Homo sapiens: one gene and its partners. The protein of the gene in region 1 purifies or fractionates together with the protein of each later gene. This does not show direct contact. Each region holds a gene or a part of one and is shown in the gene's direction. Other genes may lie near its edges. The genes, in order: LNP1, NDUFAF5 and PITRM1.

The links.
Region 2: the proteins of LNP1 (region 1) and NDUFAF5 purify together in Homo sapiens (affinity purification with mass spectrometry; one large-scale study listed by BioGRID and IntAct). This does not show direct contact.
Region 3: the proteins of LNP1 (region 1) and PITRM1 purify together in Homo sapiens (affinity purification with mass spectrometry; one large-scale study listed by BioGRID and IntAct). This does not show direct contact.

Annotation. Positions count from the first base shown.
Region 1 is NC_000003.12:100,404,417-100,408,070, forward strand, and holds part of LNP1 (leukemia NUP98 fusion partner 1), read left to right. Parts: intron 1-3,654.
Region 2 is NC_000020.11:13,815,936-13,819,115, forward strand, and holds part of NDUFAF5 (arginine-hydroxylase NDUFAF5, mitochondrial), read left to right. Parts: intron 1-527; coding exon 528-611; intron 612-939; coding exon 940-1,022; exon of another isoform or gene 1,023-1,023; intron 1,024-1,182; coding exon 1,183-1,275; 3' UTR 1,276-3,180. UniProt on the Homo sapiens protein: Arginine hydroxylase that mediates hydroxylation of 'Arg-111' of NDUFS7 and is involved in the assembly of mitochondrial NADH:ubiquinone oxidoreductase complex (complex I, MT-ND1) at early stages. May also have methyltransferase activity.
Region 3 is NC_000010.11:3,141,758-3,145,411, reverse strand, and holds part of PITRM1 (presequence protease, mitochondrial isoform 2 precursor), read left to right. Parts: exon of another isoform or gene 1-441; intron 442-1,045; coding exon 1,046-1,120; intron 1,121-1,425; exon of another isoform or gene 1,426-1,556; intron 1,557-1,636; exon of another isoform or gene 1,637-1,910; coding exon 1,911-2,023; intron 2,024-2,323; exon of another isoform or gene 2,324-2,440; intron 2,441-3,642; exon of another isoform or gene 3,643-3,654. UniProt on the Homo sapiens protein: Metalloendopeptidase of the mitochondrial matrix that functions in peptide cleavage and degradation rather than in protein processing. Has an ATP-independent activity. Specifically cleaves peptides in the range of 5 to 65 residues.

The DNA of each region.
Region 1 (3,654 bases):
GCTATTGAGCACTTGAAATGTAGTGTGACAAAGACTACAGTTTTCATTATTTAATTGATTTAAGTAGTATCATGTGGCTAATGACTACCATATTGGACAGCACAGCTCTAGATATTCCTCAAGTGAGGAATTTATTAGAATATGTCTTCTTCTTTATCTTCAATCTCTCCATTAGTAACCAAAGTAAATCTCATTGCTTCAGGTACCATTTCTGTGCAGATAATCACTGTCTATATATCTTTTGGCATAGCTTCCCTTTTTACCTCTAGCCCTATATTTCTTACTACTTACTGAGCAGTTTTGCTTGGATTCCTGACTTTTGTCAAAAATATAACTCATCATTTTCCCCACTCATTCTTTCTCTTTGTGTTATCCTTTTTTTTTTTTTTTTTCCAAGATGGAATTTCGCTCTGTTGCCCAGGCTGGAGTGCAGTGGTGTGATCTCGGCTTACTGCAACCTCTGCCTCCTGGGTTCAAGCGATTCTCTTGTCTCAGCCTCCCGAGTAGCTGGGACTACTGGCGCCCGCCACCACACCTGGATAATTTTTTGTATTTTTAGTAGAGACGGGGTTTCACCGTGTTAGCCAGGATGGTCTCGATCTTCTGACCTCGTGATCCGCCCGCCTCGGCCTCTCAAAGTGCTGGGATTACAGGCATGAGCTACTGTACCCAGCCTGTGTTATCCATTTTTTCTAATAATACCACTATTACCTTAGCAGTTACTCATATTTGAAACCATAGACCTTTTTAGACCTCTCTCTTTTTCATCCTTACCTACCCAAGCACAAATGATTATGCTGTTGTATTTATATACACACATAAACACAAAATCAGCTGTGAAGTCTTCAACAAATTCAACTTTGTTGTAATATCTTTCTTATAGTTTTTTCACCCATTCTGACACTTCTTAGTTCATATAAGTGAAAACTCCTAAGAGTATGTATAACACATAACAGATACTCAATAAATAGTTTCTTCCCATCTTAGTACAGGCTGCTATAACAAAAATATCATAAAACTACTTAGCTAATAAACTATAGAAATTTATTTCTCACAATTCCTGAGGATGGGGGTTTGAGATCAGTGTGCCAGCATGGTCAAATTCTGTAAGAGCCCTATTCTGGGTTGAGGACTGCAAATTTGGTTTGTGTCCTCAAATAGTGGAAAGGGGCAAGAAAGTTCTCTGGAGTCTCATTTTTATAGGGGCACTCATCCTATTTTTAAGGGCTCCATCCTCATGATCTAATCACTTCCCAAAGGCCTCAACTCCTAATACTATTACATTCCCCTCTTTTTTCTCTTTTATTCATTTCCTTCATCTTGCCTAAATCCTATATTTGCTTGCTTCCCAGATAATTTCTCTGCCTCTAGTGCCTCTCTTCTATGTGTCACCCTGCACCTTGATATCAATTTACTCTTCCTATAGCATAACTGTAATTTCACTCTTGAGCTGAAAGACTTTTAAATCCTCTTCACTTTCACTATAAAGTTCAACATTTCTGCCCACCCATGCCTCCCTTCATACACCTCTTCTCTTTCTTTGGTCTACGATATTAGCACCTAGCACTATTAGAAATTACCTATGTGGGCCGGGTGCAGTGGCTTGTGCCTGTAATCCCAACACTTTGGGAGGCCGAAGCGGGTGGATCACCTGAGGTCAGGAGTTCAAGATCAGGCTGACCAACATGGTGAAACCCTGTCTCTACTAAAAATACAAAAATTAGCCGGGCATGGTGGCACATGCCTGTAATCCCAGCTACTCAGGAGGCTGAGGCAGGAGAATCGCTTGAACCCCAGAGGCGGAGGTTGCAGTGAGCCGAGATTACCCTATTATACTCCAGCCTGGGTGACAGAGTGAGATGCCGCCTCAAGAAAAAAAAAACCTCTCAGGTGTACACTTGTCTGTGGGAAAAATAAAAAAATAGTGTGATCCCCTCAATAGGATGTAAGCCCCACGAGGACAGAAACTGTTCATTTTGTACAGCCAGAGCCCAGAATATAGGTGGTGTGATGGGTAATTTCATGTGTCAATTTGACTGGGCCATGGGATACCCAGATACTTGTTTAAACATTATAAATGTGTCTGTGGTGGTGTTTTTGATTGCTTGATTTTTATTTTTTTATTTTTATTTTTTGAGATGGAGTCTTGCTCTTGTTGCCCAGGCTGGAGTGCAATGGCATGATCTCGGCTCACTGCAACCTCCGCCTCCCGGGTTCAAGCGATTCTCCTGCCTCAGCCTCCCAAGTAGCTGGAATTACAGGTGCCCGCCACCATGCCTGGCTAATTTTTGTATTTTTAGTAGAGACGGGGTTTTGCCATGTTGGCCAGGCTGGTCTTAAACTCCTGGCCTCATGATCCGCCTGCCTCAGCCTCCCAAAGTGCTGGGATTACAGGCATGAGCCACTTCGCCTGGCTGATTTTTATTTTTAGTGTATCTATTGTCGGTTTTTGCTTCAAAAAACATAGATATTACAGGTTATTTTAGACTGATAACAAGTTAACTTTGATTATTTACACATACACATGCAAACTACACTTTAACTCCACTTCCTTTCCTCAATATTTTGTGCTTTCAATTTCACAATTTAAGTATTTTTATATTGCATATCCATCAACAAGTTGCTGTAGTTATTAATTTTAATACTTTTATCTTTTAGCCCTACTAAAGATACGTGATTTACACACCCTCATTACAGTATTTAAATGCTACCATTACAGTATCAGAGTATTATAAATTAAATTTAGCTATGTACGTATTTTTGCCAGGGAGTTTTATACTTTCAGATGTTTCTGTGTTTATCATTAGTGTCCTTTCAGCTTGAAGAACACCCTTTAGCATTTCTTGTAAGACAGGTCTGGTGGTGATGAACTCCCTCAGATTTTGTGTGACTAGGAAAGTCTTTATCTCATGTTCATTTCTGAATGACAGTTTTGCTGAGTACAGTATTCTTGATTGACAGTCTTTTTTTTCCTTTAGCACTTTGACTATATCATACCACTCTTCCCTGGCCTGTAAGATTTCTGTTGAGAAATCTGCTGCTAGGCATATTGGAACTGCCGTATATGTTACTTGCTTTTTTTGTCTTGCTGCTTTTAGGATCCTGTCTTTGTCTTAGATCTGTAGAGTTTGATTATAATATGTCTTGTGATAGTCTTATTTGGATTGAATCTAATTGCAAATCTTTGACCTTCCTGTACCTGGCTATTTATATATTTCTCCAGGTTTGGGAAGTTTTCTGCTATTACTGCTTTAAATAAGCCTTTTACACCCTTATCTTTCTCTACTCCCTCTTGAATGCTGGTAATTTGCGTATTTGCTCTTTTGATACTATCCCATAAACCCTATAAAGTTTCTTTATTCCTTTCCACTCTTTTTCCTTTCTTCTCCTCTGTATATTTTCATATAACCTGTCTTCAAGTTTACAGATTCTTTTTCTGATTGATCAATCCTGCTCTTGATGCTCTCTATTACATTTTTACATTCATTGTATTTTTCAGCTCCAAAATTGGTCTGATTTTATTATTTCAATTTATCTGGTAAATTTCTCATCTGACCATTTATTATTTTCCTAATTTTGTTGACTTGTTTCTCTGTATTTTCTGAAGTTCTTTGAGCTTCTTTAAAACAGCTGTTTTGAATTCCTTGGCAGATA
Region 2 (3,180 bases), on another chromosome or scaffold:
AATGTGGGATTAGTAAAATATTGTAAATCTGAGAGCACATAGTAGCTTTGGTACTATCTAATGAGTTTCAAAGCCGTCTTCCAAGTTTCACAGTCATACTTGCATTATGGCTTAGGAGTGAGGCATTGTTGCACTGACCTGTCCTCCTCCAAAGAGCAGCTAAAAGCATGAGATGTGACATCCTTGGTAAAGTTCTTGCCAATTGCTGACAACTCACCTGGGGTGGCAGTCACCTGGCTTTTGCCCAGCGGGCTTACTTTAGACCATTGCTGGCAAGTAAAGCATTGTGGAGCTGCCTCCTGAAATTTCACTTGCCTGTCTTAATGTTGAAAAAGTTTCAAGTAGTTTCGCTTTAGAGTCACTAAGAAACCCAGTTATAATCTGAAAGTGAAATGAGATTTAGGTTTACATGACCCTTAGAGAATGAGGACAGGTATACTGTTAGATGAGACGGGATTAAGTCTGTGGTATTGAGCTGTTCAGGGTGTTTGCTGTATTATCTCAAACTACCTGTAGTGTATTTGTAGGTATGGGTGAGAGTAACTGTGCTTGGAATAGAAAAGCCCTGCTGCATCGAGACACAATGCTGGCAGCTGCGGCAGTGTACAGAGGTAAGGGGCGACCACTCTTTCACCCGCCTCACCAAGGCACTTGTGCTGTATCATGTTGATTCCCTTCACGTTGCCAATGCATTTTCCATTCCTGTTAAGGCTCCCTCAGACTTCTTGTCCTTCCTCTCAAAACACAGATCCTGTAGCTTTTTCCAGACAGCCTTTACTATTTCCTTACCCTCAGTATTAAGAATTTTTCATGTAAGATGTTCTCAGAATCTTACAAGTATCCTTGTACCCATTTCTTTTTGAAGAACATGACCTTTATTGAGCAGAAATTTTTTCCTACTTGCATTTTTTCAGACTTTAACCATTATTGTCTTTTTAGAAATGTACAGAAATGAAGATGGTTCAGTACCTGCTACATACCAGATCTATTACATGATAGGATGGAAATATCATGAGTCACAGGTAACGTTACTAAGATGGATCACTTTTCTTAGTGGGTTCGTGTTCAGATTATTGTTTACTAACTTGGGGGAAGGGGTAATGTAAGACAGCATTAAGGGCTTTAATTGGGGCTGTGTATTATCTATCTATTTCTAATATCTTTAATCTTTATTATTTTCAGGCAAGACCAGCTGAAAGAGGTTCCGCAACTGTGTCATTTGGAGAGCTAGGAAAAATAAACAACCTTATGCCACCGGGGAAAAAATCACAATAAATATTTATTCAGTGTTAATGTCGTCCAGAATTTTCATCAGAAATGGATAGCTTTAACATCTAAAATTATTATATTTTGAAGCAAGAAGCACTCTAAGCTATTTACTAATAGGCTTTTCATATAATTAGGAAAACCTAATATCACATCTATAGTAACCATTTCAGTTTCATATTGTTTCTGTTCTCATAAGGATACTGCTGAGTGTCTTTGCAGATTCAGCCTAAAAGCAAAGAAAATATTTCCCTAAAATATTTGCAAATAATGTTCACATATGTAAATGCCTTGGAAAATATTACTCATGCTGACCTTTTACACCTTTTTCATTTGTCATACTGTTTTCTTTGCCTTGAAGAGGAACAGATGAATATGCACCTTCTCCAGAGTTATGTGGTTTTAGAATTTAGAAGAGCATGTATCTTTATTAAATCCCTCCTCAACTCTTTTTTTTTAAAGCATCTGAATTTAACCTTATTTCTTTTTTATCTCCATGGTGTGGGTGGGACCACCATGGTTTTACACCCCACCCTACCTTAGGGAAGAAGAAAACATTTTAAAGAATACCAGAAGTAGAATCACATGTAACAGTCTCTGCACAGTCATCAGTTTATTGTTAAGCTTTCCTTTGTAATTTCAGGGCTTAAGCACTATTATCCTAATCCAAGTTCACAGTCCTGTTGTTGTCGAGGAGGGTTCAAAATCATTTGGAGATAATCAAGCTCAGACAGCTTAGGATAGGTGAGAAGAACATAGAGGAAGCAGGGAGAAGGCTGAGAAGCAAGCAGGAGTGAGCGCTAAGTGTTTTGTTTCCAGTTAGCTGTTCGCTGTCTTTTCCATTTAACCTGGGCACTGCCCTAGCCTCATCTTCAGCCTTCAGTGATCTATAATAGCATTTCCTTCTGTCTCCTCTCAGTCTCTCTTCTGCCTTCCTTCCCTCCTTTACTGTATTAGCAACAAGCTGTCCATGGGTGGGGGCTGTGTGTTAGCCTGTACGTAGCACATGGGACTTTCCACATAGTAGATATTCAGTTACATTTTGAACTAATTATATAACAAACTTGCCCTTTGAAAGACTAAGTTATAGTTAAAAACCAAGATTTGTAGGAGAAAAAGAAATTATTGTTCCCTTCAGTTTGAAAAATCATCGATATTTGAAACTGGGATACGCTTGGTAGCTTTTTTGTTTTAACACAAAGTAAACCTGTGAAGTAGAATTTGGCGTTTTGTTTTTTGGGGTTTTTTTTTTTTTTAGCTTAATTTTCAGAACTTGAAGAGAGAGAACAACAACAAAAAACAAACTGCGCTAGCCAGGTGCAATGGCGCATGCCTGTAGTCCCAGCTACTTGGGAGGCTGAGGCAGGCAGGAGTTCAAGGCTGCAGTGAGCTGTCTGTGCCACGGCACTCCAACCTGGGCAAAAGAGGAGACCTCATCTAAAGAAAAATCCACCAAAAACCCTGTGTTTTAAAGTGCAAACTGATGATGGAGGAATGGGTAAATTCCAGGGGTCTATATTTCCAAAAGGACATGTGTTTTTGTGCACTAATACTTGTTTTTGAAGAACACATCTCAGTGTTAAGTGGCTGTTGCTGAGGAAGGGGACTGAGGAACTGGGTGTGTCTGTGTCATTCTGTTTGAATGTCTGTCAGGGGTATAGAAACTAGGAGGGAGACTTGTACTTTTCACTTTTTAAACTTCCTGTAAAATTTGAATTTTCCAAGCAAGAATATTACTTTTGCTTATTTAATGTCAACGGAATTATATGTGGATGGTGGGGTGGAGCTAAGGATTACTCTACTCTGGCTATCCCAAAAAAAGCTCCATTTGTTTAAAAAAATTAAGTAAATCAAACACAGCTAATTGAGGACCCTTATTGTTTAATGTGAGTGATTGTAGTGAAAACACTTATT
Region 3 (3,654 bases), on another chromosome or scaffold:
AGTGAGTTCAGACCCTGCGGTGTGGCCTTAGATCCCGCGCTCACTTCTGTGCCTTGCAGTGAGTAGTCTGATAGGAAAACAGACTTTGGCTGGAATACGCTGGCAGAGGAATGGCCCAAACCGTAGCCTGAAGGCTGTTCACTGCTGTTTCTTTGACTCATGAATCCATGGATTTGACATGGAACAGTGATGTCGGTGATAACTAACTTAGTAAATTTGATTAACTTAGAGAGTTGTAGTCTAGTTCATGGATGTCAGTAGAGAAGCCGTGCTGCTCCGTGGAGGAGGTTGACGCTCATGTCTTCTCCGTTGGTGTCTGCGTATCCCTGGTTCAATTCTGGATGTGGTCTCTCTGTTGGCCCCTGGGAGTGGAGCCTTTGGGAGGTGGCCTCCTGCTGCTCCAGGCCCCTCTGCCTGCAACCCTTTCACCTTAAATGTCCTCTTGATTTGACAGATTAATGACAAGAAAGTGCAGAAAGAAAGGTTAAAATATTTTCTTTGTACCATATAACAAGGCTACCTTTTCCTTGACTGTCTGAAAATTTATTTTAATATTTTCTTAATTTCTTTTACTCACTTTATTTCTTTTTTTAGTTTTTGTTATTTTGAGACAGGGTCTGTCTCTGGCACTCGGGCTGGAGTGCAGTGGTGCCATTACAACTAGCTGTAGCCGTGACCTCCTGGGCTCAAGTGATCCTCCAATCTCAGCCTCCCAAGTAGCTGGGGCTACAGGTGTGCACCACCATGCCCAGCTAATTTTTAAAAATTTTTTGTTGAGATGGGAGCTCACTACATTGCCCAGGCTGGTCTCAGACTCCTGGACCCAAGCAATCCTCCCACCTCAGCCTCCAAAGTGCTGGCATTATAGGCATGAGCCACTCTGCCCAGCCTATTTTTATTTTTTTTAAGCGTTTATTATTTAAAACACTTACACCTGCCCTAACACTTGTTATTAGCTGTGTGAATTTTATAAACTCTGTTACTTCTTATATATTTCAAGTGAGTTCTGGATTTTTCTCTTTTCTCTTGGAAACTTGATTTTCAGAAACCTGTGCCCAGCAGCTCTGGTGGAGATGCCCACGTTCCCCATGGCTCCCAGGTCATTAGGAAGCTGGTCATGGTAAGAACCACAGCCCATCCGGGTTGCCAGCGGGTGGGTGCTTCCCTGCATGGCTGTGTCTGCCACTGATGTTCGAATGTTCCTCCGTCCGCCTGTCTGTGGGGCTGGCGTGTCCCTAGAGTTGCGAGTTCAGTGCATCCTTTGTCACTGCCACCCTGAGCCTTTTCTCTCTCAGACAGTACTGAGTGAAGGCCCTGGTGGGGGTGTGTCCTCCTGTGCCGAGGAGGGCCCTGGTATGGGGTGCGTCTTCCCTGTGCCCAGGAAGAGGGCTACTGCTCTGGGTGGTCTCCTCCCGGGCAACTCACCCTTCTTTGAACGTAGCTCCCGAGCTGAGTCGATGCCAGTGGAGCGGTCTGACAGATCCTTTCCGCGACTCAGCCTGGTGCTGATGCTGTTTGGTTTGGTTCCTTGTGGAGTAGAGTGATTTAACACATTCCTATGATATAATATGATATGAAATATAAATATGTAACTGTGATATAAACGGCGTAGAATGAAATGTTTTTAATTGAACAGTATACGTTAAGGCATCACGTCAAGATTGGAGGACTTCATGTCAGTTTTACAGTGAGAAATTGTGTGGAGTGACGGAACTGCAGTGCCTTGCTCTCGCGCCCCAGCACCTGGCTGCAGAGTGTCACGGAGATGGGACCCCTGAGATGGCTCCAGTCCCAGTGCCGTGGGCAGTGCGTGGGAGCACAGCCGCCTCTGACCCCTGAGTGGGTCCAGTCCCAGTGCCGTGGGCGGTGCATGGCAGCACAGCCGCCTCTGACCATACCGTGTCCCTCAGGAACCCACCTTCAAGCCCTGGCAGATGAAGACTCACTTCCTGATGCCCTTCCCGGTGAATTACGTGGGTGAATGCATCCGAACTGTCCCCTACACGGACCCAGATCATGCCAGGTAGGAGGGTGTAGGTCGGGACCTCTCAGGCCTGAGCCTTACGGAAGAGCTTGTCAAGGCTGTTCGAGTTCACAGGGCGTGTTTTAGCACAGGAAAAGTCTGTGCTGACTCTGAGTGTTGGACCTGGGGCTGTGTGAGTCTACGAGTGCTCCTCTTTAACCAGCAGTCTTTGTGAACAGAGACCCAGTTTTAGAGCCAGTCATTTTTGTAAACAATTTCTATTATTGAGGAGTCCTATGAACAATACAGATACCTATGACCTTAAACACAGACTGCTTTCAACATGCCCCATGTACTCACCTCATCTCTAGGTAAAAATCGAATGAATTTAGGCTGAGATTTCTGATAAACATGGTAGGTTAAGCCTTCATGAGGACAGATGCGTGAATGACAGCAAAGGCAGATCAAGACACGAAGCTACAAGGGAAAGAGTGGGAGGTGACCCGGAGAGCCATGGGGGCTGCAGGAGAACCTCGTGAGCCAGACTCTGGGTGGGTGGGGGGTGCCTGACCTGGGGCCACAGAGGGACAGGGCAGTGGGGAGAAACCAGGTGGTCCTGCAGAGCCCTGCAGATGGCAGGGCTGGAGGCCGCCTCACAGTCCCTCTAAGGAGTTTGTCTCCCCTGTCTCCCCACCAAGTCAGAAGCTCAGGGAAGGAGGCCCTGGGTTGAGCAGCCGAAGCCACAGCCAAGAGTCAGGGTCAGGCCTGTTCCCAAAGTGGCGTGGGGCGAGGGAGTTTGCAGCCTACAGACTGGCCCTCCAGCCCCTTCTTCCGAACTCTGGCTGCCCCTTGGCTGTGTTCATCCCATCTGGGGAAACTGGCCAGACCAGGACAGACTCACAGACGTGCACCTTTGGGGACCCGTCAGTTGGGTGTGTATGACACAGATATGTGCAAACATGTTATATCCCGGAAATTCACTTCCTGTGTCCTTGTCCCAGGCAGCTACCCCCATGAGGGACTAAACCAAGGAGTGAGCCTGGTAGAGAGGGGGAAGGCAGGCTTAGGCCTGGGCAGCCTGTCCTGATTGGAGAAGGAGCCGGGCCTCCGAGGTGCACGTGTGTCACAGAGGGTCACAGATGGGGAGGTGTGTAGGAGGCAGGCGGGAAGAAACGTGGGGCTGCAGTGGGGGCCCAGAAAGAGCTGGCTGTAGAAGTATGTGGTCAGCTGTTTTGTTCATTTATTTCCATATTTGTAGAAGATGAACAGATCTGTCTGCTATGCCGGCAGAAGAGTGGTGTCTGTTTCCACTATCCAACAGGAAAATGTAGACAGAAAACACTAAAAATGTGGAGGTTCCCCCTGGGCAGTGGGATTCCAGATCTTTTTTTCCTTGTGTTTTGTATTTTATAATCTTTCAAAAGTGAGCATGTTTTTAATATACAAGTAATAGAAATTTCTCAGGAAGGATAATGTGTGGACGGATGGAACGCCATCCCTGCCGGTGCTGGTGGAGACTCCGTCCCCCAGGGTCTGACTCCAGCCTCGCTAGTCCCGGCTGACGGCGCCCCAGCCACCCGAGTGGCGCTGGGTTTCTCCTGGAGGACCCACACGAGATGGTCGTGACTTCTCCCACCACAGCCCCTGGGAACACGCCCACTCCTTCCTTGATTTCCCACCTGGCCTATTTG